Homo sapiens: one gene and its partners. The protein of the gene in region 2 purifies or fractionates together with the protein of the main gene of each other region. This does not show direct contact. Each region holds a gene or a part of one and is shown on either strand. Other genes may lie near its edges. The genes, in order: GC, CTSB, MYO1C, LAP3, PFKL, MYO1D and SPTBN2.

What was found.
Region 1: the proteins of CTSB (region 2) and GC purify together in Homo sapiens (affinity purification with mass spectrometry, with the first as the bait; one large-scale study listed by BioGRID). This does not show direct contact.
Region 3: the proteins of CTSB (region 2) and MYO1C purify together in Homo sapiens (affinity purification with mass spectrometry, with the first as the bait; one large-scale study listed by BioGRID). This does not show direct contact.
Region 4: the proteins of CTSB (region 2) and LAP3 fractionate together in Homo sapiens (co-fractionation; one large-scale study listed by BioGRID). This does not show direct contact.
Region 5: the proteins of CTSB (region 2) and PFKL purify together in Homo sapiens (affinity purification with mass spectrometry, with the first as the bait; one large-scale study listed by BioGRID). This does not show direct contact.
Region 6: the proteins of CTSB (region 2) and MYO1D purify together in Homo sapiens (affinity purification with mass spectrometry, with the first as the bait; one large-scale study listed by BioGRID). This does not show direct contact.
Region 7: the proteins of CTSB (region 2) and SPTBN2 purify together in Homo sapiens (affinity purification with mass spectrometry, with the first as the bait; one large-scale study listed by BioGRID). This does not show direct contact.

What each region holds. Positions count from the first base shown.
Region 1 is NC_000004.12:71,781,280-71,785,510, forward strand, and holds the start of GC (vitamin D-binding protein isoform 1 precursor), read right to left. Parts: upstream 2,801-4,231; 5' UTR 2,776-2,800; coding exon of another isoform or gene 2,740-2,775; coding exon 2,682-2,739; intron 1-2,681. UniProt on the Homo sapiens protein: Involved in vitamin D transport and storage, scavenging of extracellular G-actin, enhancement of the chemotactic activity of C5 alpha for neutrophils in inflammation and macrophage activation.
Region 2 is NC_000008.11:11,851,088-11,854,587, forward strand, and holds part of CTSB (cathepsin B isoform 1 preproprotein), read right to left. Parts: intron 2,393-3,500; 5' UTR 2,368-2,392; coding exon 2,242-2,367; intron 1,609-2,241; coding exon 1,523-1,608; intron 1-1,522. UniProt on the Homo sapiens protein: Thiol protease which is believed to participate in intracellular degradation and turnover of proteins. Cleaves matrix extracellular phosphoglycoprotein MEPE. Involved in the solubilization of cross-linked TG/thyroglobulin in the thyroid follicle lumen.
Region 3 is NC_000017.11:1,468,687-1,472,186, forward strand, and holds part of MYO1C (unconventional myosin-Ic), read right to left. Parts: coding exon 3,437-3,500; intron 3,339-3,436; coding exon 3,221-3,338; intron 2,651-3,220; coding exon 2,537-2,650; intron 2,462-2,536; coding exon 2,385-2,461; intron 2,004-2,384; coding exon 1,935-2,003; intron 1,834-1,934; coding exon 1,749-1,833; intron 1,649-1,748; coding exon 1,489-1,648; intron 929-1,488; coding exon 845-928; intron 1-844.
Region 4 is NC_000004.12:17,587,198-17,590,697, reverse strand, and holds part of LAP3 (cytosol aminopeptidase), read right to left. Parts: exon of another isoform or gene 3,019-3,500; intron 2,381-3,018; exon of another isoform or gene 2,217-2,380; intron 1,880-2,216; coding exon 1,721-1,879; intron 1-1,720. UniProt on the Homo sapiens protein: Cytosolic metallopeptidase that catalyzes the removal of unsubstituted N-terminal hydrophobic amino acids from various peptides.
Region 5 is NC_000021.9:44,320,553-44,324,052, forward strand, and holds part of PFKL (ATP-dependent 6-phosphofructokinase, liver type), read left to right. Parts: intron 1-1,176; coding exon 1,177-1,323; intron 1,324-1,580; coding exon 1,581-1,651; intron 1,652-2,409; coding exon 2,410-2,497; intron 2,498-3,213; coding exon 3,214-3,366; intron 3,367-3,500. UniProt on the Homo sapiens protein: Catalyzes the phosphorylation of D-fructose 6-phosphate to fructose 1,6-bisphosphate by ATP, the first committing step of glycolysis.
Region 6 is NC_000017.11:32,492,022-32,496,124, forward strand, and holds the end of MYO1D (unconventional myosin-Id), read right to left. Parts: exon of another isoform or gene 3,427-4,103; intron 2,895-3,426; coding exon 2,738-2,894; 3' UTR 501-2,737; downstream 1-500. UniProt on the Homo sapiens protein: Unconventional myosin that functions as actin-based motor protein with ATPase activity. Plays a role in endosomal protein trafficking, and especially in the transfer of cargo proteins from early to recycling endosomes.
Region 7 is NC_000011.10:66,691,217-66,694,716, reverse strand, and holds part of SPTBN2 (spectrin beta chain, non-erythrocytic 2), read left to right. Parts: intron 1-353; coding exon 354-578; intron 579-855; coding exon 856-945; intron 946-1,270; coding exon 1,271-1,531; intron 1,532-1,616; coding exon 1,617-1,747; intron 1,748-1,976; coding exon 1,977-2,181; intron 2,182-3,058; coding exon 3,059-3,433; intron 3,434-3,500. UniProt on the Homo sapiens protein: Probably plays an important role in neuronal membrane skeleton.

The DNA of each region.
Region 1 (4,231 bases), on a different chromosome or scaffold from region 2:
ATGTAAATGACGAGTTAATGGGTGTCAGCAAACCAACATGGCACATGTATACATATGTATCAAACCTGCACATTGTGCACATGTACCCTAGAACTTAAAGTATAACAATAATAAAAAAGAAAACTTGAATCGAAAAAAAAGAAAAGAAAAAAATGCAAAAAAAATATTTTTAGTGCTCTGTTAACAGTGTGTAACTTAAAACTGAGAATTTTTTTGCTGTAGTTTAATTTTAAAAAATCAATTTTTATAAATGTTTCCTGGTCATTAAGGTAACTTTTCTATCTGCAAGTTAAAAAAAAATTTTATAGCTGTATCACCAGTCTTTGTTACTTGGTTTCTTTGGAAGGGAAGAGGGAAAGATATATTGTATATTAGTATTTCATCCATTTCAGTCCTAGGGGAAGAAGCTACTTGTAGGCAACTGGGAAATACTGCCTTGTTGCTTTTCATAGGGTAGCAAAAGTGGACATTTTCTTATGGTACTAACCAGATTTAGCAGATTTGGTAAGCTCTCTTCTCCAAGATGTACCCAGTGGCTTGGGAACAAGATTCCCAATGCTGTTTGATAGGAGAGGGCTGGCTTAATTGGAACCTGTCCAGTAAAGGGTCATCTGTAACAGTATCCATTTTAGACCCAAGGTTTCCAAAGAATAGTTCCACAGGTATAGACATTGTAGAAAAGGGTCAATATGTTTAGATACTCTGAGTTAGATAAGATTTCTTTCCTGTAGTGTTTCTCAGAACCTTTAGGACGACAAAGGCATGAATTGTGAAACCACCAAGAAGGAATAAATTATGGCTCATTTCTTAAATATATTTGGCCACAGAAACTTCTTTTCAAGGTAAGTCTTGAGTGTAATATATTTTGAAACAGGTGCTTAAATAAATGCTGTGGGTGGTCAGCTCTCTAGAACTATAACAGGCAGAGAAAACTGCAATTCAAACCAATCCCCCACAATACAAGGCTACTCAGAACCTAAGAGTTCTCAGAACTCCCTTAATCTGTACACTTTGTAACTTCCTGCCAGGAAGAACACAGCTAGCTTCTAAGTAAACTGCTGACTTGGTCTTTGGGTCATGCTCAGGTATTAGAGAATAGAGAATTGATAGATCAGGACTACTCTCCCCAAATATTGAAAGTTAATGCTTACAAGTGTATTATGTATGTCTCAAGATATCATCTGGCATATGGCACATGGGTTATAAGAATGAAGTTTAGATCTTCTAGGGGACTGACTGGAGGTTTTTAGCATCCATTTCATCAGAATCTGAGGACTGCTGAGAATGTTGAAATATAGATTGCAGAATGCTCTGTTATTCTCCAAAGGACACTTTCATTCTTTGAGGTGAAGCCAATGTGCACCTATTGAGTCAGCAGTCTAAGATGGTGATTCATGCTCCTGCTTATGGCCTCCATATATAATTCCAATTCCTAGCCATTATTGGACCTTCTGTGTTTGAAGACCCTGATCTGAACCTGCTTCAGTAGGATTTTTCAGGATCAGATCTGCCCCAGCAAATCCTTGGCCAAAAGAATAAGACTTAAAGGGATTTCTTGGAACATGGCCTATTCAGAGGTCTTATAAGGGACACAATTTATGTTGCTTTTTTATACCCTATGCTGTCTGGGAAAGACTTTGTAGTCTTACCTAAGGACGCATAGCTTACTTAAGAATTGATGGGTAAGACGAGTTAAAATAATTTGAATGATGAAATAAGACCAAGGAAAAGTAAATGTAAGAAGAAGAATAAAAAGTCAAGAGTAAGGTTATTCATGTTACAGTTAATAACTGATAATTCTTGGGAACACACATTTTATTCCACTGGCAAAACACATTACTATTATGAATAATAATGTACGAATTAGGTGAGGCTGTTAACTGACAGCACTAAATGAAAACCTTAATTTTACAAAGCAGGATAAATGCAGATGTCCCTTGTGAACATTAAAGAATCAGCCAGAAAAGTAAATTGAAGCTAATGATGAAAAGTTTCCCAGCTGTAGAATTCATAAAGTTGTATACTTCCCATAATCTCAGTCTTTATCATGTAAAAAAATTTTTAAACATTGCCCAAAGATGAACACACCATCTGAAGAATAATTTCAATGAAAAATATAACTGAATTATCTTATTTGTGGTTATGTTTCATAGCTATAGAAAAATTTTATGTGAGGGATATTTTTAAAAATACAATGCATTTTCAAATACTGCATGTATAAGATTCCTCTAAGGGGATCAAAGAAATCTCTAAGTTGACATCATGCATCATTGGCATGGTATATTACACTCAATGGTAATAAATATTTGAAGTCTGAATAAATGCTTAATGGTGGATCACAGTCTTTATTTGCATTATCTTGTAACAATTAGCAAATGTCTAATTTTAAATTATTCTCTCTAGGTCTTGCTTATCAACAAAGGAGGAAGAGATAATTGACAAATTATATCATTCCATTTACTTTCTTTAACAAGATTCTTGTGTTGATTTTTTTTGTCAATTCCAATTCAACATTACATGGCATCGTGGAGCTCTGATTAATGCCTCTCTGGTCCTTATCCCTCTCCCCAACATATTCACCAGTTCTTCTGTTTCTTACTTTTTATTTCATTTTTTAAGTGATAATATAAAATTAAACTAGTAAGAATTCCTGTAAATGGTCACAACAAAAGAAATCTTACCTCTCTCTAAAGCATGTCCAAATGCCACAGCAAGCAGTAGTACCAGGACCCTCTTCATTTTTCTACCAGAGAGTCTTGCAGCACCTCCTCTCTCCTGTAGGTGACCATGTAAAAGTGGTAGCCAAAAGTAATTGGTTTCCTTTTTACAAAGATTCCTGACTATGAATTAATCAATTATTAATCTCAGAAGCAACACAGAATTATTATTAAACACAGAAGCAAGGGGCTGTTATCTTTGGCCCAAAAGAGATAAAATAATATCAATCAAGGTAAATAGACACCCTGGGGATACTGTAGTGGAAAATCTAGGAGATTTTAATCATTAACTTTGTCAAACTGCAAAAGAGCCAAGGTATATAGATTATTTTCCACTGCTGTTCCTCACTAAAGTTTACTTAATATGTTAGTAACGCACACCTTCTCCCCCTGTATAGGGCTGTGTGTCTTCTTTGGACACCCCACCTTTCTCATATGTAAGTGGAAAATCGGAAACTCTGTCTTTACCTCTCTTCCTCTCTTTGTTTAAATCTACTACAAATAAGCATTACCTTAAAATATTGCAGACCAGATGTTCTAAGTAAAAGGGGAAAAAGAGTGAGAAGCCAATTCAACATAATATTTTAAATCCATAATTCTGATGCTATGAAGTAATCTTATTTTAGATGATGGCATAGTACTTTGTATTTCTATGCTGTATTGCACTTTGTGAAGCACTGACATATATATGAAAAATAACCTTTGAAGTGAGGCAAATAACTGGAGAGGTTAAATGGCTCACCACTGCCAATCATAAAAAGTTAGTGGCAAATCTTGGACTCCCTACAGTGATTTTAAAGCTCCTTCTACTAATAGTTTACAACTAGTATATTTTATGGGCATGTAATTTGAGAGCTCAGAGAGGCCCTGTAGGACATGAAATCCAACATCTTCATTTTACAGAAGAGTGAACTGAGCACTGGGTAAATTCTGTGACTTGTCTAGAGAGTCATAGGTAGATCATTCATTGGAATTAGATGAGTTCCACTCCTGGTTTTTGCAGTAGCCCTATTTTCAGGAAATGGTCAGGTACAGGTTGTTACACATGCTCTAAAATCAAATCCCTACTCAGCTTTCATAGCTGTGTAACCTTGGGAAATTTATTTTACCCCTCTAAGTTTCATTTTCCTCATATGCAATGTGGTGATAACTCAGTACATTTGACACAACATTGCTATGAGGTTAATTAAGGTAATCTGGGTGCAGGGCTCATGGTAACATCCATCACATAGTAACATGGATTAATGTCACCTATTACTCTTATTCTAGTTATTGCCACGTTCTCCCACTGGCTTTCCAAATTTATAATATCTGTGAAGGTCAATGAAACTAATGAGGCCATTGGAACTCAGTGGAAGAGTTTAAAGACAGCCCTGTGTCCAGGGTCCCGCAGATAAGTGATTTAAAACTTCATTATCAACTCAGTAGCCAAGGATTATCTACATGGGCAGAGTCTATCAAAATTTCAGTAAACCAATTTAGGTAGTTACATGTTTAGTCAGATTTTCTATCTA
Region 2 (3,500 bases):
ACAAGACATGCCGAAGAAGGCTGCAGACAGGTGTCCTTGGTAATTTCATAAAACAAAAGGAAATTCTGTTGCTCAATGCACCTTTTGATTTTTTTTTTGGGTGGGACGGGAGGGTGGGAGTGGACAGAATTTCACTGTGTCATCCAGGCTGGAGTGCAGTGGCGAGATCTCTGCCCACTGCAACCTCTGCCTCCTGAGTTCAATCGATTCTCGTGCCTCAGCCTCCTGAGTAGCTGGGATTACAGGCATGCACCACCACACCCGGCTAATTTTTGTATTTTTAGTAAAGACAGGGTTTCACCATGTTGGCCAGGCTGGTCTTAAACTCCTGGCTTCAAATGATCTGCCTGCCTTGGCCTCCCAAAGTGCTGGGATTACAGGCATGATCCACCACACCTGGCCTGACTTGCGATATTGTACGCTTCTTTCTAGGCTTATGTAATGGATTTTTTAAGATGAATTTATCCACAAATTATAAACTCATTTTTAAATAAGTTTATTCAGTCCAGATAGTGTTTCTTGCCCTGCTCTCCTGCCTCAACCTCTGCCCAGGATCCTCTCATCATTTCTCATATCATCCCCATTGTGCAGAAGGCAGTGTCGTGCAACTTAACTACCCCATCCTCACGTGGGAAGTGGCATCATCTCAGCTCACCGCAACCTCTGCCTCCCGGGTTCATGCGATTCTCTAGCCTCAGCCTCCCGAGTAGCTGGGATTACAGGCGCCCGCCACCACGCCTGGCAAAGTTTTTTATTTTTAGTAGAGACGGGGTTTCATCATGTTGGTCAGACTGGTCTCGAACTCCTGACCTCAGGTGATCCGCTTGCCTTGGCATCCCAAAGTGCTGGGATTACAGGCGTGAGCCACCATACTTGGCCTCATCTGGCTTTTCTTAGATTTCCCTTAAATTACTCAAGATTGAGTCTGCCCACATAGTGGGGACCCAGACCTTGTCTGTCACATCTGCGGCTGAGACACCTTGGAGAAGCACAATAGAAAACACTGGGGGTGGCTCATGCCGGTAATCCCAGCACTCTGGGATGCCGAGTTGGGCAGATGACTTGCTGAGGCCAAGAGTTCGAGACGAGCCTGGCCAGTATGGCGAAACCCAGTCTCTACTAAAAATACAAATATTAGCCGTGCACGGTGGTGCAAGCCTGTGGCCCCAGCTACTCAGGAGGCTGTGGCATGAGAATCGCTTGAACCCGGGAGACAGAGTTTGCAGTGAGCCAAGATCGTGCCACTGCACTCCAGCCTGGGTGACAGAGTGAGACTCTCTCAAAAACCAAAAAAAAGCACCAGCATCTTCTCTACTAATAACTTGAGAAGGAAAAAATAAAATAAAAAGAGAAAGTAATATAAAAATGAAAAGAAACAAGTACTGTACCTCAAGCGGTGTCGGCAGCCCTGGGCAGCATGAGCCCTGCGGACGCCAGAGAGGCCTTCACTCTCCCACTTCCCACTGCCCCAAACCAACGCCTGCCACTCACATTACAGCGGTGCAGAGGAGCAGGCACTCACCTCTGGGGTGGCTTGGGCCCACCCAGGAAGGTACCACATAGCCTCTTCAAGTAGCTCATGTCCACGTTGTAGAAGTTGTGCCCGGCCTGGAAGAGAGTCACCCACTGACTGAAGGGTCTCCCGGGATGGCGGTGGATGGGCACGCTGCCCACACACGAAGCCCAACCCAGGGAAAACCAGAGACCCTACCCAATTCAAGGGCCCAAGGGTTGGGGGGCACTGGGGAACAGCCCAGAGTGACACACGGGCAGAGTGGGTGTCTCCCCTGATCTGCTCCCATTTGCTGACAATCAGAGACCCTCTCCAGCCCTCAACATGGCTCACTCCTCATTCTTGGTTCTCAGTCCGAGGGTCAGGGCTGGGCAGAGACAAAGGGAATCAGGGGCGGGACTGATAAACTGCCACTGTGCCACGGCGGGCGTCACAGGGGCTAGCTGGTTTTGAACACTTCCGAAGCTCACTTACTCCCCCACACACCTCCACGTGCACACAACCATATATTCATACACATGCACACACACTCATGCACACACGTGGGGTATGGGACAAAGGAGGGAGGCGTGGTCCAGAGCCGACATGACTCAGGGTCAGGGCCATTTTTCAACAGTCCAGGACAATGTTCTGTGGGCCACAGTGAGGGCTGGCTTCCCATTCCTGGAGTCAGTGTGCACAGACCGACCTGGGAGGGGACATACATAGGACGCAGCCCCACAGCCTACCTGCCACGTGGTATTCCGTTTGTTGACATAGTTGACCAGCTCATCCGACAGGGGATGGAAAGAGGGCCTGCTCCGGGCATTGGCCAACACCAGCAGGCAGCAGAGGGAGGCCCAGAGCTGCCACATGTTGGAAGCCGGATCCTAGATCCACCTGGAGAGGACAGAGGGCATCAGGACACCTCTCTGTTATGTGGGTCGAGGGCTCACACACACAGGGGCACCGTCTCGGGCATCAGTGGGGACCCCCATGCTCGTCCTGGCCCAGGCGGAGAACTCTTAAGGAGCTGAGGTGTCTATGGGATCCCCGCCCCCCTGCCCGAAGCACGCCATGACCTCGTGTGGGTCCCCGGGGGCCAGGCGGCCAGAGCCCAGAGAGAGAGCCAAGGGGCTGTGCTGGACGAGACCGAGTCCAGGGCCTTCGCTGCTATTTTTAAACGGCCTTTGCATGGATTTGTAGAACAGCTTGAGACACTTTCCCAAGTGAGTGATATGAAACAGTTAAGAGCCTGTCTGTGTGATTACACCCTAAGTGGAGGACCCAGGGGACAGGGAAATGTAAGAAAAGTTACAATCCAGGAGTCCTAGTTTCGACAGGACACAGACAAACAAGCTCGGTGTGGGCTGGTGGAGGTTGAGGCTGAGAGGTGGGGCTGGGCTGGCCATCCACCCACTCCCGGGGCCTCTCTGGTTTTTCCAGTCAGCCAAGGGCTCTGCTTCCGGCTGCGGAGATGAGGCTTCTGAGAAGGAAAACTCTCACCTCGATGCCCCAGCCGTTTGATCTTGCACTGGCTCATGAGTCACAAGCCAGTGCTTTCCAGCTTGAACTCTGAGTCACCCTCCTAAGTGAGCAGCTCAACAAAAGCAATACATGTCTCCTGGGCGCCTGCATCCAGGGCTGGGGAGAGCCGCGGCGCGGGGAGCTGGGTGAGGCAGGGGTTCCTGTCAGTCACTCCAGGGGCTCCCACGGGTGGGTGAGGTGTTCTACCTCCCACAGGTCACAGGTCGTCATGAAAGTCACAGGACTGCGGTGTCAGTGCTTAACAAACTGCCTGGCACCTAGGGGTTCTATCTGAAGAACAATTTAAACTTCATTGTTGCTTAAGCAACAATTCATCTAGGAGAATAAATATATGAGGACAGCAAGATGGCTCTGGAAAAAAGCTTTTTTTTTTTTTTTGAGACAGGGTCTTGGTCTGTGGGCCATGTCACCCAGTCTGGGGTACAGTGGCACAATCTTGGCTCACTGCAGCCTCCACCTC
Region 3 (3,500 bases), on a different chromosome or scaffold from region 2:
CAAGCACTCCCCAGCGGGGTCATGAAGGCACTGCGGGGTTTTGAAACTGGCCTTGGTAATGCTTCCCCACCCCATCAGGCCCTGGTGGCCCTGAGACTCAGCTCCAGCTTGGGGTCTTGTAAGCAGCAGATCACTAATACTCAAGGTTACTGGGTGGGCCCTTTAGCATCATCCAATACTGAGTTGGCAAAAACACGGCACATCAACCAATGCCTGTAATCAGGGCAGATATCACCAATCGACCCGAGTGAAGACGCAGACTTTTCAACACAGGGTTCTGAGCAGTCTCTACCAATCAAGGGCAGTTGGCCCACGATATGAACCCTACTGGCCACCCCAGCTGTACTCCAGTGTCCACTTCCTACACGAGGCCCAGCAGGGCCTGGCATCCAACTGAGGTCACCGGTAGACCGGGGTAAATACGGTAGACTAGGGTAAATAGAGCAGACCGGGGTAAATAGAGCAGACCGGGGTAAACAGAGTAGACCGGGGTAAATACGGTAGGCGGGGTAAATATGGTAGGCAGGGCAAAATACGGTAGACCGGGGTCAATACTATAGACGGGGTAAATACAGTAGATTGCGGTAAATAGAGTAGACTGGGGTAAATACGGTAGGTGGGGTAAATACAGTAGACCGAGATAAATACGGTAGGCGGGGTAAATACGGTAGACTGGGGTAAATAGAGTAGACCAGGGTAAATACGGTAGATCGGGGTAAATACGGTAGAACGCGGTAAATACGGTAGACCGGGGTAAATGCCCCTCCAGGCGGACACCCTTTGAGCAATGCTTGCGACTCCCTGACTCCACTTCCTCATCCTCACCCAGCCCCGCTCTCCGTACCTGCTGCTTCCACTCAGGGCTGATACTCCGGCAGTATTTCCACACCATGTTCTTTATGCACAACTCCCGCAGAAGCTCTGAGGCCTAAGGGGAGGAGTGAGGTCAGAGGTCCTGGACACCCTGGGCCCTTCCCTCTGAAGACATCGAACATATGCTACTGCATCCTTTGGATAAGTAACACCCCCTCCATCTGGAGACGCTTCCGGTCAAGAGACCTTACTCGGCAGGGCGCGGTGGCTCACGCCTGGAATCCCAGCACTTTGGGAGGCCAAGGTGGGTGGATCACCCGAGCTCAGGAGTTCAAGACCAGCCTGGCCAACAGGGTGAAACCCCGTCTCTACTAAAAATAAAAAAATTAGCCGGGCGTAGTGGCGGGCGCCTGTAGTCCCAGCTACTCAGGAGGCTGAGGCAGGAGAATCGCTTGAACCCGGGAGGCGGAGGTTGCAGTGAACCGAGATCATGCCACTCCCTGGGCGAAAGTGTGAGACTCCATCTCAAAAAAAAAAGAGACCTTACTTTTCACTGCTCAGCTCTGGTCCGGGCCCTCCGTGAGCCCTCCCTGACCAATCCTTTGGCCCGAAGAAATCAGACCCTTCTGCTGTGTACTATGATGGTCCCTAACTTGGCAGGGGGTGCCCACAGACCTCACGCAGGGCAGGTGGGGGCGTGGGCCACGAGGTGTCCAGGACATTCTGGGGCAGCTGCCGCCTCAGGTTTAGCAAAAAAGAGGTGCGCACATGGTCCAGGAAGAAGGCGTTCTCGGGGCAGCGGGGGGCGTGGCGCAGGACGAAGCCTCGGATGAGCCTGGGGTGGGGGGCCAGACAGGGTTGGGGGTGAGGGGCCTGGCGGTGAACCACCCCCCACGCCCTGCTCTGCAGCCCCCACAAGGCACCCTGGCGCTCACCGCCGGATGGTCTGTGCCGCCCACTTCCTCTTGGCTGCCTTCCTCCGGCCCAGTGTTCCACGCCACCACGACTGGATGCAGATGGCTGTCGTGGAGACCACAGATGGCTGAACTCTATCTTCTTACCATGGTGGCCCCCCCTGGCCCCAGACCCCGCCCCTCCTGAACACCCATGGGCCCGCGAACCTGATCTCTTCACCCGGAGGAATTTCTGCCGCCAGTGAAAGCCCCTCCAGGCAGCTTGGATCTTTGTGGCTGCGGTTGGGAAAGAAAGGCAATTGGCCAGAGCGCGGGGAGCCAGCTGGGAGCCTGGTGCCGTGTGCGCTCCACGAGTGGCATGAATGGGAGAGTGGCTGAAGGAACCAACGAGCAGGAGGAGAGTGGTGAAGAAGAATGAATGTGGGGACTGCCCGGAAAAGGGGGGCGGCGGGTGGGATGGTGGGCGTGGGGCTGGAGCTGGTGGGGAGGGGCTCCAAGTCGGCCATTGGACTCTCTGGAGAAGGACTCCCTGGAGCTGGGCGTGGGGCTGGAGCTGATAGGGAGGGGTGGACTCCCTGGAGAAGGAGCCCAAGGGAGTGACTTCCCTGCTTCCCAGAAGGGACCCCGTGCAGCAGGAAGGGTAGGCCTCTCTCTCACCCAGGCTCTGCCGCCGGACCTCCAGGGCATCCTCTGTGGCAAACAGGGTCTTGGGGAAGCGGATGAAGATCTTGGTCCTGGGAGAGCAGTAGTGATCAGCCCGGGGTTGCCACTCCCATTCCCCGCAGGCACCCGGCACGGACACTACCCACCTGCCCATCTTGTACTCTTCTGGCTTGTAGCCCAGGTGTCGGACCAGCACAGCCACCCCATCCTGCGGCCGTCCTGCCCACGTGGGCCACGTCTCTGGGCACAGTGACTTGTACCTGGGGACAGGAATGCACGCGGCTCCCACCCCAGTCAGCAGCCTGCCCTGGGGACCCCAATCAGCTTTCTCTGGGCACCTGCTGGGTGCTCCCACTGACTCGTTCACAGCTAGCAGGAGGCTCACTCGGTCACTGCCCCCATTTTAAAGATGAAGAAACCGTTCTTATCTACCTAAGGCCAAGTAACTAGAAAGTGGCAGAGATGAAATTCAGTTTGACCCCCCAGGCCCCCGACTCAGAAGAACCACAAAGCTGCTCCACCCTTTCGGAGCCCCTTGGAAGCTGCCCTACAAGGCTTGCTGTCTGCCTCTGGTGCCCGGCACGTGGACGGAGGCCTCCTGTACCCCTGACCGGGTGCTCCTGGAGGGCACGGCCTGGGGGAGCCGGGTATTCTTTCCACCCAGCCTGATGTCAGGACCGCAGCACCAAGGGCCTCCACCAAGGGCAGCCCAGGGCCTCCGCATCCGCATTTCTAAAATGGGGCCGAGAACCCTTGTCTGCCCTCATGGGACCTAGGGGCTCCTACCCTCCCGCTCCCCTTCCCTGGCACCGAGCAGGACCTGCCCCCACCTTTGCAGGAAAGCTTCGTATTTGCGGCGATAGGCAAAGCCGGCTCTGCGCACGCGCAGGTTTTCCAACAGCCCCAGGTACTTCACCTGGTGGCGGATCAGCACCTCGTCAAAGCGGCCTGGGGTAGGGGGAGCGCCGTGGTCAGCGGGCTGGCGCTGACGGCCTGTCTCCTGCAGGGGAGGCCCGGCCCCGAAGTCCCCCGTGGGAGGGGCCTACCGGGCTGTTTGGCATCATTGGGTTTGATGCAGCGGACGTAGGCGGGCTCCTTAGACTGCAGGAT
Region 4 (3,500 bases), on a different chromosome or scaffold from region 2:
CGGGAGGCTGAGGCAGGAGAATGGTGTGAACCCGGGAGGCGGAGCTTGCAGTGAGCCGAGATTACGCCACTGCACTCCAGCCTGGGCAACAGAGCTAGACTCTGTCTCAAAAAAATAAATAAATAAAATAATAGACACTTTAGTACAATAGTATAATGCATATAACTTATAAAAAAGCATGCATATTTTCAAAGGGATGCACTCAAGATCTTTTACTGATGGGCTATACCAGGAAAACCATTTGGAGATCAATGCTTTAAAGGAGAAAATGTGAACTAGTGGGTGGGAGACACAAGGAGGCACTTTGACCTGCTAACACAAGGAGACCACACTGACAGCAAGCTATGCCAATGACAGGGGCTTCCTACGTCTAGAAGCATTCCAGAAAGGGCACAAAAATGTACAAGGGGACATCAACATCGTATGGTTCTCTAGCAGCATTTTCCAAAGTAGTTTCCAGGTAACATGATTCCCAGGAATCAGGGTTCCTTCAAAAGGAAATACAGAAAATGCTATATTCTGTACCCTGAGAAGTCCTGTAGTTAAGCAAATAAAACAAAAATGAAACCCCTCATGGGTTTCTCTAACCTAGTTTTTTTGCTAAGTAGCCCTTTTTACGTCTCATACTCGCTGGCATCCCTGAAACTTGTGTTTGGTGGCAAATGCTTCCCATGGGAAATACCAAACTCCACTATCTTTCTCAGTTCAGCCTCTCCTTGGCTGAAATAACCAGATACAGTTTCCAACTCTAAGAAATACTTATGGTTGAATAAGATTAATGGGAGCTAGACTGGTCAGCTAAAAGAAGTAATCATCTGAAGCAAGCAAAGGGAAGACAGCATAATACAAACAGGGGCATCACCACTAACCTCGTGGAGAATCTTTAACAGCCACAGAGGACAAGCAAAGTGCATGGCAGAAAAATCTGAAGACACTTTAGGCAGAGCACAATGGCTCACACCTATAACCCCAGCACTTTGGGAGGCTGAGGTGGGAGGATTGCTTGAGACAGCAGTTTAAGACCAGTTTGGGCAACACAGTGAAAACTCATCTCTATATTTTTTTTAAAAAAAGGACACGACACACCTGAGTTTGACTTCGGACTCCACTTACTAGTTATAGGACTTTGAACAAATTATTTAAACTCTGAGTCATGGTTTCTTTACCTGGAGAATGTCTACAATACCTAGCCCACAGGGGTATGGTTAGGGCTAACACATGCAAAATACCTGATAGTCTCTGACATATTCTAAGCATTTTAGAGGTGGTAGCATAATAAATTTAAAGTAATGTATACCTTCAACCAAACACCATGCTTTTGTATCAAACTATAAACCGGCCAGGCACAGTGGCTCATGTCTGTAATCCCAGCATTTTGGGAGGCTGAGGTGGGCGGATCACTTGAGGCCAAGAGTTCAAAACCAGCCTGGCCAACACGGCAAAACCCCATCTCCACTAAAAATGCAAAAATTAGCTGGGTGTGGTGGTGCACGCCTGTAATCCCAGCTACTTGGGAGGCTGAGGCACAAGGATTGCTTGAGCCTGGGAGGCAGAGGCTGCAGTGAGCCGAGATCACGCCACTGCACTCTAGCCTGGGTGACAGGGTGAGACTCTGCCTCAAAAAAAAAAAAAAATCAAACCAAAAAACCCTATAACCAAGTAATTAAACTGCACACAAATAATTCACCAAAATACAAAGCACGGACACCATAAAAAATACCTGTCAAAGGTAATTCCTTTCCCAACAAACACCAGGGGTGGTTCGTTTGCATTGGGGCTGCCTTTGTAGTGAATTTCCAAGAAGACTGGGGGCTCGTCAGATCCTTTGGCCACACTGAGGAATGATCCCATTGCCTGTTCCTCAATCCAAGACTTGGGTCTATAGGGTAGAAAGAGGGAAAAAGTAAATATACTGTTACCTTTATTTCAAAATAACAGAAAAAGCTCATCACAGTGTGTGAAAAAGTATAATATACAAACTCTTAAAGTATACGCACATTAAGGTTTCAATTATCAGGTCCCATTATTTGCTTTCTGTATATTCTTGGGCAAGTCACTTGATTCTAAGCCTATTTCCTCATCTATAAAATGAGGTCTGTAATTCTTCCATCAAAAGATTATTGAATTACTAAGAGAAGTCATGTGTGGTACCTAATACAATGTCAACTAATAGTCTACAGTCTATATAATTAATTTCCTCTCTCCAATCTACTCAGATATTTCTACAATTTTAATTTAAAGATGAAGTTAGAAGGCCGGGTGCGGTGGCTCATGCCTGTAATCCCAGCACTTTGGAAGGCTGAGGTGAGAGAATTGCTTCAGCTCAGGAGTTTGAAACCAGCCTGGGCAAAAAAGTGAAACTGTCTCTAAAACAAATAAGGTAAGATATAATAAAGATGAAATTAGAGGCCAATGAAGGAGGATCACTTGAGGATAGAAATTTGAGACCAGCCTAGGCAACAAGTTGAGACTTGGTCTCTACAGAAAAAAAAAAAAGAAAAAATTAGCCAGGCATGTTGGTGCCTGCCTATTGTCCTAGCTACTGCAGAGGCTAAGACAAGAGGCTCGCTTGAGCCCTAGAGGTCAAGGCTGCAGTGAGCCACGATCTCGCCACAGCACCCAACCTGGGCAACATAGCAACACCCTGTCTCTTAAAAAAATAAAATTAGCAATAGGCTCTGAGACCACAAAGAGTGCTTAAAGATAGGTAAGGGGTCCATTGCTTTATTTCTAAAAATGAAAAAAAAAAAAAATCAACCAACAGACAGCAAACCAAAGCTATATCCCAATGACTGGAAAAAAAATATCCTATTTATTTGCTTTTTAAGAACTGTTGAATTCTATCTTTTTAATGTTGTCACACACTGTTTCTCACAGTTTCAACTGTTGCTTGAGGCATCTTTAAGTGAGAAAACTAGTTAGTTCTTACTTAATAAACATGGGATCGGTGGGGTAACAGAATGGAAACAGTCCTTAGTTCAAACTAGAAAACTGATGCCATATTGCTCTTCTTTCTAGGCTAGGAGCACAAAAGGGCTTTGTATTGATTTCTGGCCACGGTAACTAGGCCAAGAAAGAAATTCTATCCTCCTGCAGACCAGCAACAACCACAGCCAAGGAATGCTCCTCCGGCATTTGCCATCCACTTGTTAAAATGATTAAACTAGGACTGCATCATGGTGGGATGACCAGCACACTTCAAAGGGAAAAAAATTTTAAATCGGAAGATGAAACAGTTTTAAAAATCACTTCAAAAAAAAAAAAAAAACAACAACAACAAGGCTGTGCAATGTGGGCATTTTAAATCATTAACTCAGTACTTGATGTCTGATTAAAGTCCTGCCCTTGTGGAAGAACTGCCTGTGTTTCTCTGATATACACTGACCTACAATGGAGAGTGCTTAGCGCGGCTATGTCTCAGTTTAACGAGTCATACCCCACCCATGCGTCCTGCCTGGTCTCTGCTGAACTCTTTTCCCTTTGCTCGGCTACAAGTTTTG
Region 5 (3,500 bases), on a different chromosome or scaffold from region 2:
CCGTCTCTACTAAAAATACAAAAATTAGCTGGGCGTGGTGGTGGCACATGCCTGTAATCACAGCTACTCAGGAGGCTGAGGCAGGAGAATAGCTTGAACTTGGGAGGTGGAGGGTGCAGTGAGCCGAGATCGTGCCATTGCACTCCAGCCCGGGCGGCAAGAGTGAAACTCTGAAAATAAAATGTTCCCAAACAGCTGAAAACCTCAGGAAATGGGATCTCTCCAAAATAAGGATGAAATGGCTTGTTTCTAAAGTCCTGGGGGACGAGGGTCCTGTAGAGAGAGTCACGGCCAGTGAGGTCCTGGCTCCCAAGCCCCTTGAGCCACAGCCGGAGCTGCAGGCCGGGGCAGACAGCGTGGCCCAGCCTGAGTCTGGTCCTCCCTTCCATGGACATCTTTGGGTGTCCCTGCTGCTCCAGCCTCCTGCTTATCCCCAGAGCTAGTCAGCGGGCTCTACCCTCCGTGGTGGGGCAACCTGGTCTCCACGAACCCAGAACCTGGCAGGGGCGTGACTGGCTTTGTGGGCAGCAGGGCTGGCTCGTACCAGGACCCAGTGGGGCCATGTGGCTATGGAGCCCTTGGGTGTGGCTGCTGCCAAGTGGGATGTGCTGCACGTGACAGGTGCACGCCAGGTTCAGAGCCTCAGCACGGTGGGTGGAGGGGAGGTGGTGGCGGCCGTCACTGGATTCACATGGATGTGGTGGGGTTTTGGGTCCATCAGGTTAAATTAACTGTAGTCCTGATGGGACTGTCTCCATGTCTTTTCCCTTCCCTTAACGTGGCTACTAGAAAACAGGATAGCCAGGGCCCCTTCCTTACTCGTGGCTGTGCACCCCCCACCCTCCCGCCCGCTGCCAGCCCCTTGTGTGGGCACTGACCTGTGTTCCCGCCCGCAAGCCTGGCTTCACAACAGTGCTCGCCCCTTCTGCCTCCTCTGTTGCCTGCGTGCCAGGGGGCCAGGCTTGCACCGTGTCTCTTTTGGTCTTCACCAGAATCTTCTGGAATTAGAACAGATACCGTATTCCCAGGGCAGTTGGGCGGTGTGCTGGGCAGCGTCCAGGCTGCTGGCAGGGCCTGGCCCCTTTTTCCAGAACCTGCCGGCCTGCTGACCTCCTGTGCAGGTTGGGGGTCCCCTCCCCGGCTGTGCCTCACGCTCATCTCCCCTTCTCTCTGAAGTCTAACTTCTCCCTGGCCATCCTGAATGTGGGGGCCCCGGCGGCTGGCATGAATGCGGCCGTGCGCTCGGCGGTGCGGACCGGCATCTCCCATGGACACACAGTATACGTGGTGCACGATGGCTTCGAAGGCCTAGCCAAGGGTCAGGTGGGTCCGGCCGGGGCAAACAAGTGAGGACTTGGGCCTTCTGTGTGCACACTTGGGGCATTTCCTGTGGAAGGCCGGCTGCTGGAGGTGGAGGCTGAGACCTGGGTCCGCGTGTCGGTGCCCACCCGGGCCTGGGTACTCAGCTCTGCCTGCAGCGTGATGCCCAACACTGGCTGGCCCCCGGGCACAGGCCCACCCCTGGGGGGAATTGGCCAGAGGCTCAGGCTGGCCCCTGAAGCTGCATCTCCTCCTGGCAGGTGCAAGAAGTAGGCTGGCACGACGTGGCCGGCTGGTTGGGGCGTGGTGGCTCCATGCTGGGGACCAAGAGGTGAGCTGCCTGCTGCGGGTACCTGGGGGCAGGAGGGCCAGGGCGCAGTATCCAGGCCCTGCAGGTGGGGGCGGCAAGGGGAACCCAGCCCGGGGCCCTGGGCTCGGCCCCTCTTCCTGCTGGTGGTCTGCCCAGAGCAGGCTTCACGCCTCCTGCCTGGGGCTTCCTGGCCTGAGCTCCGCTGTGTAGGGCAGGCTGCTCTGGCGGCCCCATGCCCATGGTGGGCTCTCCGTGGCAAGGAAGCTGGCGAGCGTCTGTCCCTGCCTGGCCAGGCCAGGCAGCCTGCACTGTCAGCACTCTGGCTGAGGCTATGGGCCTGTCTGATGGCTTTTGTCCCAGGGCCTGAGACCCTTCTGTGGGCATGGGGTGGGCACAGTCCCCCTGTGTGACTACAGGGGAAGTTGCTGAGTCCTGAGCCACTGAGTGGCTGCAAGGGCCAGAGGAAGCATCCGCTCCTGCCGCTGAGTGTTGGGCGAGAAAGCCTCGGGCAGGAAGGGGTTCCCACGGGGAGCCCAGCGGGGTGGGGGGTTCACTCGGTTGCCTGGCCGGTGCCTGGTGATGCTGAGTGGTGCCCAGGCGGCTCACGCTGGGCCTGTGTGTCCCTCTCCGTGTGGAGCCACAGCGCCACATCCCGGGCATTGCAGCGACTGCTGACTGGCTCGGGGAACGGCCAAGGCAATGCCTTTCTGTGATCAGATGCAATCTGGACACGCGTCCCCGGGTGCTGCGTGTTCATGCGGATGTGTCTTTGACTGCAGGACCCTGCCCAAGGGCCAGCTGGAGTCCATTGTGGAGAACATCCGCATCTATGGTATTCACGCCCTGCTGGTGGTCGGTGGGTTTGAGGTGAGAGCTGCCCACGGACGAAAAAGCCCCAGGGCACAGGAGACCCAAGGTGTCCTCCCGCCGAGGGGGCCCATCCTGAAAACCCGTGTGCTGGCTGGGCCGATGCAGGGGCCGAGAGGGTCGGGGTTTTAAGTGCTGTGTGTGGGCTCGGGAGGGCACCCGTGTGCCAGCTGGGCTGATGCAGGGGCCGAGAGGGTTGGGGTTTTAAGTGCTGTGTGTGGGCTCGGGAGGGTTCTTTACTTTCTCCGGAAAGCTTCACAAGGTTCCGATTAACCCCAGTGCTGGGGAGGGGCAGGGGAGGAAGGGGACTCGGAAGCTGGAGGACGAGAAAGAAGGGAGGCGGAGGAGGCAGAGGTGTAGGTGCTGGACGGCATCGCTGAACGTGGTGTCCTGGCACTGGGCAAGCTGTCACTAAATAATGAATAAATGACAGCCCTTCCCCCTTGCCCTCCATGGAGTGGATCTGGGGTCAGAGTGGGTTGGAGGAGACTCCTGACCCTCCTTAGAGTCCAGTTTCCCTGGTAGGCATCCTGAGATGACACCAGGCTGACTGCCTGGCCCAGCCCCAGGGGATTGAGCAGGTGGGTCCTGGCGTCCAGCACGGGGCACATGACAGGTCAGCAGGGAGCAGGGCTGGGCGGCCGCCGGCAGAGCCTGTCCCCGGCCCACCCTGGCCTCGGTGCTGCCCTTGACCTGCCCCGTCCCTACTGCTGCAGGCCTATGAAGGGGTGCTGCAGCTGGTGGAGGCTCGCGGGCGCTACGAGGAGCTCTGCATCGTCATGTGTGTCATCCCAGCCACCATCAGCAACAACGTCCCTGGCACCGACTTCAGCCTGGGCTCCGACACTGCTGTAAATGCCGCCATGGAGGTACGGGGCTCCTGGACACCGGCCTGCCATGCCCAGGCCCTTGTGGGGTGGGGCTGAGCCTACGGAGGCTGCTGGAGGGGATAGTGTGTGGTGAGCACCTGGGAGGGCTGCCAGGGTTGGGGTTTGTGGGGCAC
Region 6 (4,103 bases), on a different chromosome or scaffold from region 2:
TTCCACAAAGCAACTGCCTTCGTCTGAGTTACAGAAGCCACCGCTGCGTGTTCTTTTCTGCCAATGACCAGTGACCGGAAGCACCCTGGCTGCAGGACCCTTGGGTGCTGGCCATGCCCTGTTGCTCCCTCAGGGCCTTGCTCCCTTCCCCAGGAGGAGCTGCTGCTTCCTCTCACTCTCCCTGCCGCCCCCACACTTCCTCCCAGCACCTTTCACTCCGCTGGCCTGGCCTGTCCCCAGTCTGCTGCTGTAGGTCTCTGAGCCTTTCCTTTCTACATACGTGCTTCTATTGCAGTAAACATATTCCCTGGCACTAAGCAGTGTGCTTCCAGCTGCCAGCGCACAGGCCTCAAGATGGCAGGAGAAAGTGCTGGGACTCAACCCCACGGCCTCCTTCCCTCCTCACACCTCCGGTCCACAGCTTGCTTCTTGCTCACTTTTTGTTCAAAAGCCTCAGGCAAATCATCCTCCATTTTACATGATTTGTGCTTAATTCTCCCTTCTATCCTCCCAGATAATGGTTGACTTTATTTAAGCAAAAATTTCACCAAGTTTTCAGTGACAGATAAGCAGAACACCTTTAAAAATAAGATTTAATGCTTTATTGCTCTTGATGGCAAATCAAAATATGCTTTAGAAATAAAGTTAATTTACTGGAAAATAGGAGTTTTTGCACCAAACCATAAAATTGCATTTCATTACATCAAGAGAACCCCCTCATTGTCTACAATCATGCCCGCTTCCTTTCCCCTCAGCGCCCGGGACACGTGACCGAGATCATACCCTAAATTCCTGATCCTTTTGCAGTTGCCACATACTGTGGCTTTTAGTACATCATAAAAAAGTGCTTGTCCTGTGGCCTCAGCTGGGAGGCCCTGGCGCTGGGGCTAAGGGGCCCAAGGCACCATCCAAAGGCTGGGAGGAAAGAACCCAAACCCAGGCCCTCCTCCTGCCCTCCAGCCTTTGACAGGCAACTCATTTGGCATGATCTGTTTTGGTGTGTTTAAAACATACATTTGCATGTGTCTAGTGTAAAGCAACAAGTTTGAGGAAATAAGTGGAAGGAGAGAGGAAGTTCCAGTTAGATGGTTCCACTAGTGTCTACTGGTAATTGGCAAAACTATGAGTGTTGCTAATCTGGGCTGAGGGCACCTCTGCCTGTGCAGGCAGCTGACCAGGCTTGGAGAATGAGAAAGGGTTCCCAAGGACAGGATGCCAGCGGGATTCTTTGTTGCAAACTGCACACAGTGCAATTTTTGGGAAGCAGGGATGGGGAGTGGGCATGAGACCGGGTTGTTGGGACCACTCTGGGGTCAGGCCCTGGGTGAGGCACAGGAGGCTGCACACAGGCACTTGGTGGGTTCTGCCGGGTCAGGGTGGGAAGGCAGGAGAAGTGTCTGTGGCAGGACGGGAAGAAGCTTCAGTACATCCCTCTCTTGCACCTCTGCCCACTCCACCTGAGGCGTTGGCTCCCTCCCCCTCATCCTCTCACCACATGCCTGAGGCGTAGGCTCCCCTCATCCTCTCACCGCATGGGGCATTTGCTCCCAGCCTCTACTTCCCTCAAGGCCTTCTCAGCAGCTGGGGCTCAGTGGGGAAGGTGGTCTCAGAAGGCCCCTGAAGCATACGTGCTTTTGCTGGGCAGAAACTGGCAAGCTGGCAGTGCTCCCTGGCACCAGTTTCACGGGCGCAGGCCCCAAGGGGCCGTGTAGAGGGCGGGGTGGGCATCCTGGCCTGGCCTGCAGTGCCAGGACCCCACGCTGTGCTGCTGCCCCGCTTCCTGCTTCCCGTCATCCCGTGTCTTGACCCCGCCCTTGCTGTTTCTCTGAGTAGGAAACGCAGCGGGAGGTGGTCCAGAGGGAAAGCGGCCGACCCTGAGGGCTGCCCTCACCCTGGCAGCTCCCCGTTCTCATTAGGGTTCCTGACCCAAGTGTGGTGACAGCAGGTATCTGATTAGCAACCCTGCAAACGGTGAAAGTATCTATAAGAGGACCACAGCCACAGGCTGCGAGTTAAGTAAGATGATCCTTGGAGCATGCCACACTGTCCTCTCCAGAGCGGTGGTCAGAGGCCCTGGTGGGGGCCTTGGTGGCAAAGGGAGTCTCCCAGGGGAGAACCTGGGAAGGATGGACTCACTCTGCTGGATGGGCTGTTCCGCTCCTGCCACTGGCTCCTGGCTGAGGGGCTGGCCCTGTGGGTGACTCTGCTCACCCAGTGGCTTTGGCTGGCGGCTGGGAGTTGGGTTGGGGTGGGTCCGCCGAACTCTGAGCAGAGCCTCCCTGAGCTGGGTCCCCAGGGCTGGCTCACCTTGGGCAAGAGAGGTGGCTATGGGGCTCCCGCAGAGTGGGGTCCTGCATCCCCACCCCTTCCCTCTGCAGGGTCAGCAGCAGGGAGGACACCTGTCCAGGTGCTCTGACTTGACCTGGCCACGGGGCATCCGCACCAACTAAAGGCACCATCCAGTTGCCTCTGGGGTGAGATTGGTCTGGACGTCAGCCCAGGGGTCTGGGCGGGGCACCAGGGTCTTTGGCTTATTGAACAGGGACCGTGGACAGTAAGGACAGAGGAAGATGATACCAAAGGCAGAAAACCAGGAAGGAAATCTTACAGGGGCGGGGCTCCTCTGGGAGGGGCCCTCGCAGCAGGTTTCTAGCGGGCATGGGTTGGGAGGCAGCAGCTGGACTGGGACCCAGGACTCGGAGTGTGGCCGGGCTCCGGGCCAGGCCTCCGCGGGGCGTCAGTTCCCGGGCACGCTGAGGATGAAGCCCGAGCGATTCTTGGTGAAGTCGGGCTGGGGCTGGTTGAGCCGCGTCTCCACGGAGACGGTGCACTTCTTCCCGTGCAGGCTGCACTGTACTGGGTTGGTGACGTTCACTTGAAGGTGGCGCTTCTCACTGCAGGAACCAAAAACACCAGACGGGCAGTTAGCAGGCAGCATGAGAACAGGGCACCTGCCCGGCAGCTCCCGGCCACCATTGGCTCCGGCGCAGCCTGCTTCCTCCACAAGTGCCAGGAGGATGCCTGAAGGGCCCCAGAGAGGCCGAGGCAAGGCGAGTGTGGCACTAGCTGGGCCTCCAACCACAGCCTCGGCACCATGGCAGGGCCCTTGGCTCCCATGCCAGCGCATGGGACTGGACAGTGGAGGGCCATGTGGTTGAACAGACGCCACCAGGTCTCTGGCTGGGGCTGAGGACCAAGCCCCTGGGTCCTTCGGTGTACCAGGGCTGGGGTTCTGACTCTGACACTAATCCATCCTGCGGGAGACCCGTGCCACATGCCCCAGTGAGAGAGAGAGAGAGAGATGTCTCCTGCTCCTGGCTGGTCCCTGCCTGTCACACCCCGGCTGGTGGAAGTGGGCCTGACTTGGGTTTCCCCAAGCGAGAGGCTGCTCTCATCTGGAGCTGGGCCGCTTGGCTGGTTGCCACCCTGGAGGCTGCAGAACAGTGCAGCCGGTGCCCCACCGGGGGCTGCAGGGAACCCTGTGCAGCAGGAAGCCCCGCTGGCCTGGGAGCACATGAAGGCGGCTTCAGCCGGGCGTCCGGCCGGGCTCCAGGTCGGGTGCAGAGGCGGAAGCTGTGCTCTTCCTGCTGGACAGAGCCCGAGCCCGAGCCCTTCCTCCAGCTCCTCACACGACGCTGAACATGCTAAGAAGCTGCTGCTGGTTTTAAAAGCAGAGACACTTGTCGCGATAGGCTGGCACCCCAATGTTTGCTCACACAGGCAGCACAATCCCACGCTGTACCTCAGCTTGTGCCTTGTCAGCTCTGAGCTGGGAGGGGAGAGGAGAAAGGAGGAAGCCTCCTGACCTCGGAGCCTCCAGTCAGGACTGGCTGGCTCTGCTCCGTATGCCGAAAGCCCTGGGAATTTTTCACTGCTCTCGGGATGGCGTCTGGGGCGTGGGCAGGTTGGTCCCGCTTTGAACGCTCTGCTGGACTTACGGAGCTGCTCTTAGTGCTGGGCAGTGAACGCCAAGCTGTCGTGTCCACACGGCCAGGGGAACGCCAGGGCCAAGGCCAGCATGCGCTGAGCTTCTGCCCAGCCTGGAGTCGCCTTCACCAGGCCATGAGCACGTGAGGCACTTTCTAAGCACTGGTTGCCCGGGA
Region 7 (3,500 bases), on a different chromosome or scaffold from region 2:
GCACAGTTATCACACTACCCTGGATTTTTTAATTTCAATCTTTTAGATTCGCGGGTGTGGGTGCAGGTTTGTTATAAGTTATATTGTGTGATGCTGAAGTTTGGGGTGTAATTGAACCCATCACCCATGTAGTGAGCACAGTACCCAATAGGGATTTTTTCAACCCCTGCCCTTGGATTCTTGTGCATATAAAGTTCGAGATCCACTGATCCAGCCCATGAGGGGATGCTCTCCCTGGGTGAGCTGCAGTGATGAGCAGCCACAGTGGGCTGGATAGAGACTGGTTGGTGTCTCTGCTGGGCATGAAGGCGGAAATGCAGAGCTAACATGTCCTTCCTCCTGGCGGTTTGCAGATGCTGGAATGGGAGATGGCTGTGAGAGAGAAGGAGGTGGAGGCAATCCAGGCCCAGGCCAAAGCACTGGCCCAGGAGGACCAGGGTGCAGGGGAGGTGGAGAGAACCTCGAGGGCCGTGGAGGAGAAGTTCAGGGCCTTGTGCCAGCCCATGCGGGAACGCTGCCGGCGCCTGCAGGCTTCTCGCGAGCAGCACCAGTTCCACCGCGATGTGGAAGATGAGATTGTGAGTCACTGGGGCCAAGGACGGCAAGCTGCCCCCAGCCATGTGGTTCTCCAGCCTCCCTCCTGGATGCCAGGGAGATGCCAGCAGGGCTCTATTCCCTCTTCTCTTTGGCATTGACCATCTCCCCTATAGGGAGACTTGGAGATGCCTCCCAGAACCAGAGATGACTGTTCCCCACACACAGGGCGGTAGCCCCAGGTGTCCCCACTCCCACTAATCAGTCCCTGCTGCTTGCCTTGCCCTCTGGGCCTCCACTGACCCCCTCTTCCTCTTCCAGTTGTGGGTGACAGAGCGGCTGCCCATGGCCAGCTCCATGGAGCATGGCAAGGACCTGCCCAGCGTCCAGCTTCTCATGAAGAAAAACCAGGTGAGGCAGAGGCTGAAGGCAAAAGAGAAGTTCCCAGGAGCCTGCCCAGACTTGGACGTGTTTTTTCTTAAGACCAGGCCCCCCTCGATGCTGAGTGTAACCCTGGACTTCAGTGGCTGTCTTTCCTCACCTTGGGAGGGTGGGTCCTCTCAGTAGGAGATAGTGGGGGCTGGGCGGCTGACGGGTGTTACCATCGCACCCCCAGGCTAGGAGAGGGAGCAGAGGACCCAGGAAGGAGAGAGGCACAGGGGTGAAGGGTGGTCTCCGGGAGCACGTGGGGCTGGGGCAGGACTTTCAGCATTTTCTCTTCTGTGGCCATGGGCAGACCCTGCAGAAAGAGATTCAGGGCCATGAGCCCCGGATCGCGGACCTGAGGGAGCGGCAGCGTGCTCTAGGTGCAGCAGCAGCAGGTCCAGAGCTGGCTGAGCTGCAGGAAATGTGGAAACGCCTGGGCCACGAGCTGGAACTTCGAGGGAAGCGACTGGAGGATGCCCTGCGAGCCCAGCAGTTCTACCGCGATGCCGCCGAGGCGGAGGCCTGGATGGGCGAGCAGGAATTACACATGATGGGCCAGGAGAAGGCCAAGGTGAGGGCCAGGACAGAGCCCAGTGTATGTGACCAGTTCTGCCCTCCCCTGACCTGATGCTGGATGCCACTGTCCCTTCCCCCAGGATGAGCTGAGTGCCCAGGCAGAGGTGAAGAAGCACCAGGTGCTGGAGCAAGCCCTGGCCGACTACGCGCAGACCATCCACCAGCTGGCGGCCAGCAGCCAGGACATGATTGACCACGAGCACCCAGAGAGGTGGGTGCAGCGGCAGCCCGGCCCAGCCTGGGGGTGGAGCCGGCTGCAGGAACAGGAAGGTGCAGGGAATGTGGAGCCTTCAGTGCTGTGTGCACGGAGCCTTCTAGAAAGCTGGAACACAGGGTGGGCGAGCTGTTGGGAGACTCAGAGGGACAGGGCTCCACAGAACAGACCGGAGGTCAGAGCTACACCCCTAAGTCCCACAGTGCCTCCCTCACTCTTCTTGCAGCACTCGGATATCCATCCGCCAAGCCCAGGTGGACAAGCTGTATGCCGGCCTGAAGGAGCTGGCTGGAGAGCGGCGGGAGCGCCTGCAGGAGCACCTCCGGCTGTGCCAGCTCCGCCGCGAGCTGGATGACCTGGAACAGTGGATCCAGGAGCGCGAGGTGGTGGCGGCCTCCCACGAGCTGGGCCAGGACTACGAGCATGTGACTGTGAGTGTAGGGAGGGCACCCAGCTCAGATCAACCGTGGGAAGAGTGGAGGACCCACAGGGAGACTAGGACCTAGTCCCAGGCAGAGCACTGAGGGGCTAAGGGGCAAGACCAGGCTGAGCAGGCACTGTCCTCCTGGTTTTGAGGTATATGATTTGAAGAGGCCGGGCATAGGCTCACACCTGTAATCCTAGCACCTTGGGAGGCTGAGATGGGAGGATTGCTTGAGTCCAGGAGTTCAAGACCAGCCTGGGCAACATAGTGAGACCCCCCATCTCTACAAAAAAAATTTTTTTTTATTAGCCAGGCACAGCCGTGCATGCCTGTAGGCCCAACTACTTAGGAGGCTGAGGTGGGAGGATCTCTTGAGCCTGGGAGGTCGACACTGCAGTGATTGCGCTAGTGCACTCCAGAGCAAGACCCTATCATCTCTAAATACATACACACACACACAATTTGAAGAATTGTACAGAAAGGGGACATGAAGCTGAGCTGAGACAAGGGCAAACAGGAAATTATCACTCACACTTTTCAACAGAATTCAACAAAACGGAGTATGATCCACCCCCCCGACAGTTTGGGGGCTTGGACCCTCAGTCGTACAGAAATATGGACCATAGTTAGGGTATCCTTGTCTGAAGCCTAAGGGTCCCAAGCACCTTGAAACGCCTTTGCTGGGGGTGGAGGGAGTCTGTCAAATACAGGGTCAGTGGGAAGCAGCTGCACCTACTCCTTAACCACAGGGAAGAAACCTGTCCCGGCCCCCATGCAGCGGGGAGAGGTGGGTTCTGAGTTTGGAGTGGAGGACTCGCTCCATCAGGCAGGGACCACATCCCCTAACATCACGGCATGGTCTGTCCATCTGCTTCCTCTACCAGATGCTCCGAGACAAATTCCGAGAGTTCTCCCGGGACACAAGCACCATCGGTCAGGAGCGCGTAGATAGCGCCAATGCGCTGGCCAATGGGCTCATTGCTGGGGGCCATGCTGCACGGGCCACCGTGGCCGAGTGGAAGGACAGTCTCAACGAGGCCTGGGCTGACCTGCTTGAGCTGCTGGACACACGGGGTCAGGTGCTGGCCGCGGCGTACGAGCTGCAGCGCTTCCTGCACGGGGCACGCCAAGCCCTGGCGCGGGTGCAGCACAAGCAGCAGCAGCTTCCGGACGGGACTGGCCGCGACCTCAACGCTGCCGAGGCCCTGCAGCGCCGACACTGTGCCTACGAGCATGACATTCAGGCCCTCAGCCCCCAGGTCTGACCCAAGCATGAGGAGGTGGGGGAGGCTTAGAGGAGGCCATGGGGGAAATGCCGGGGAGAGT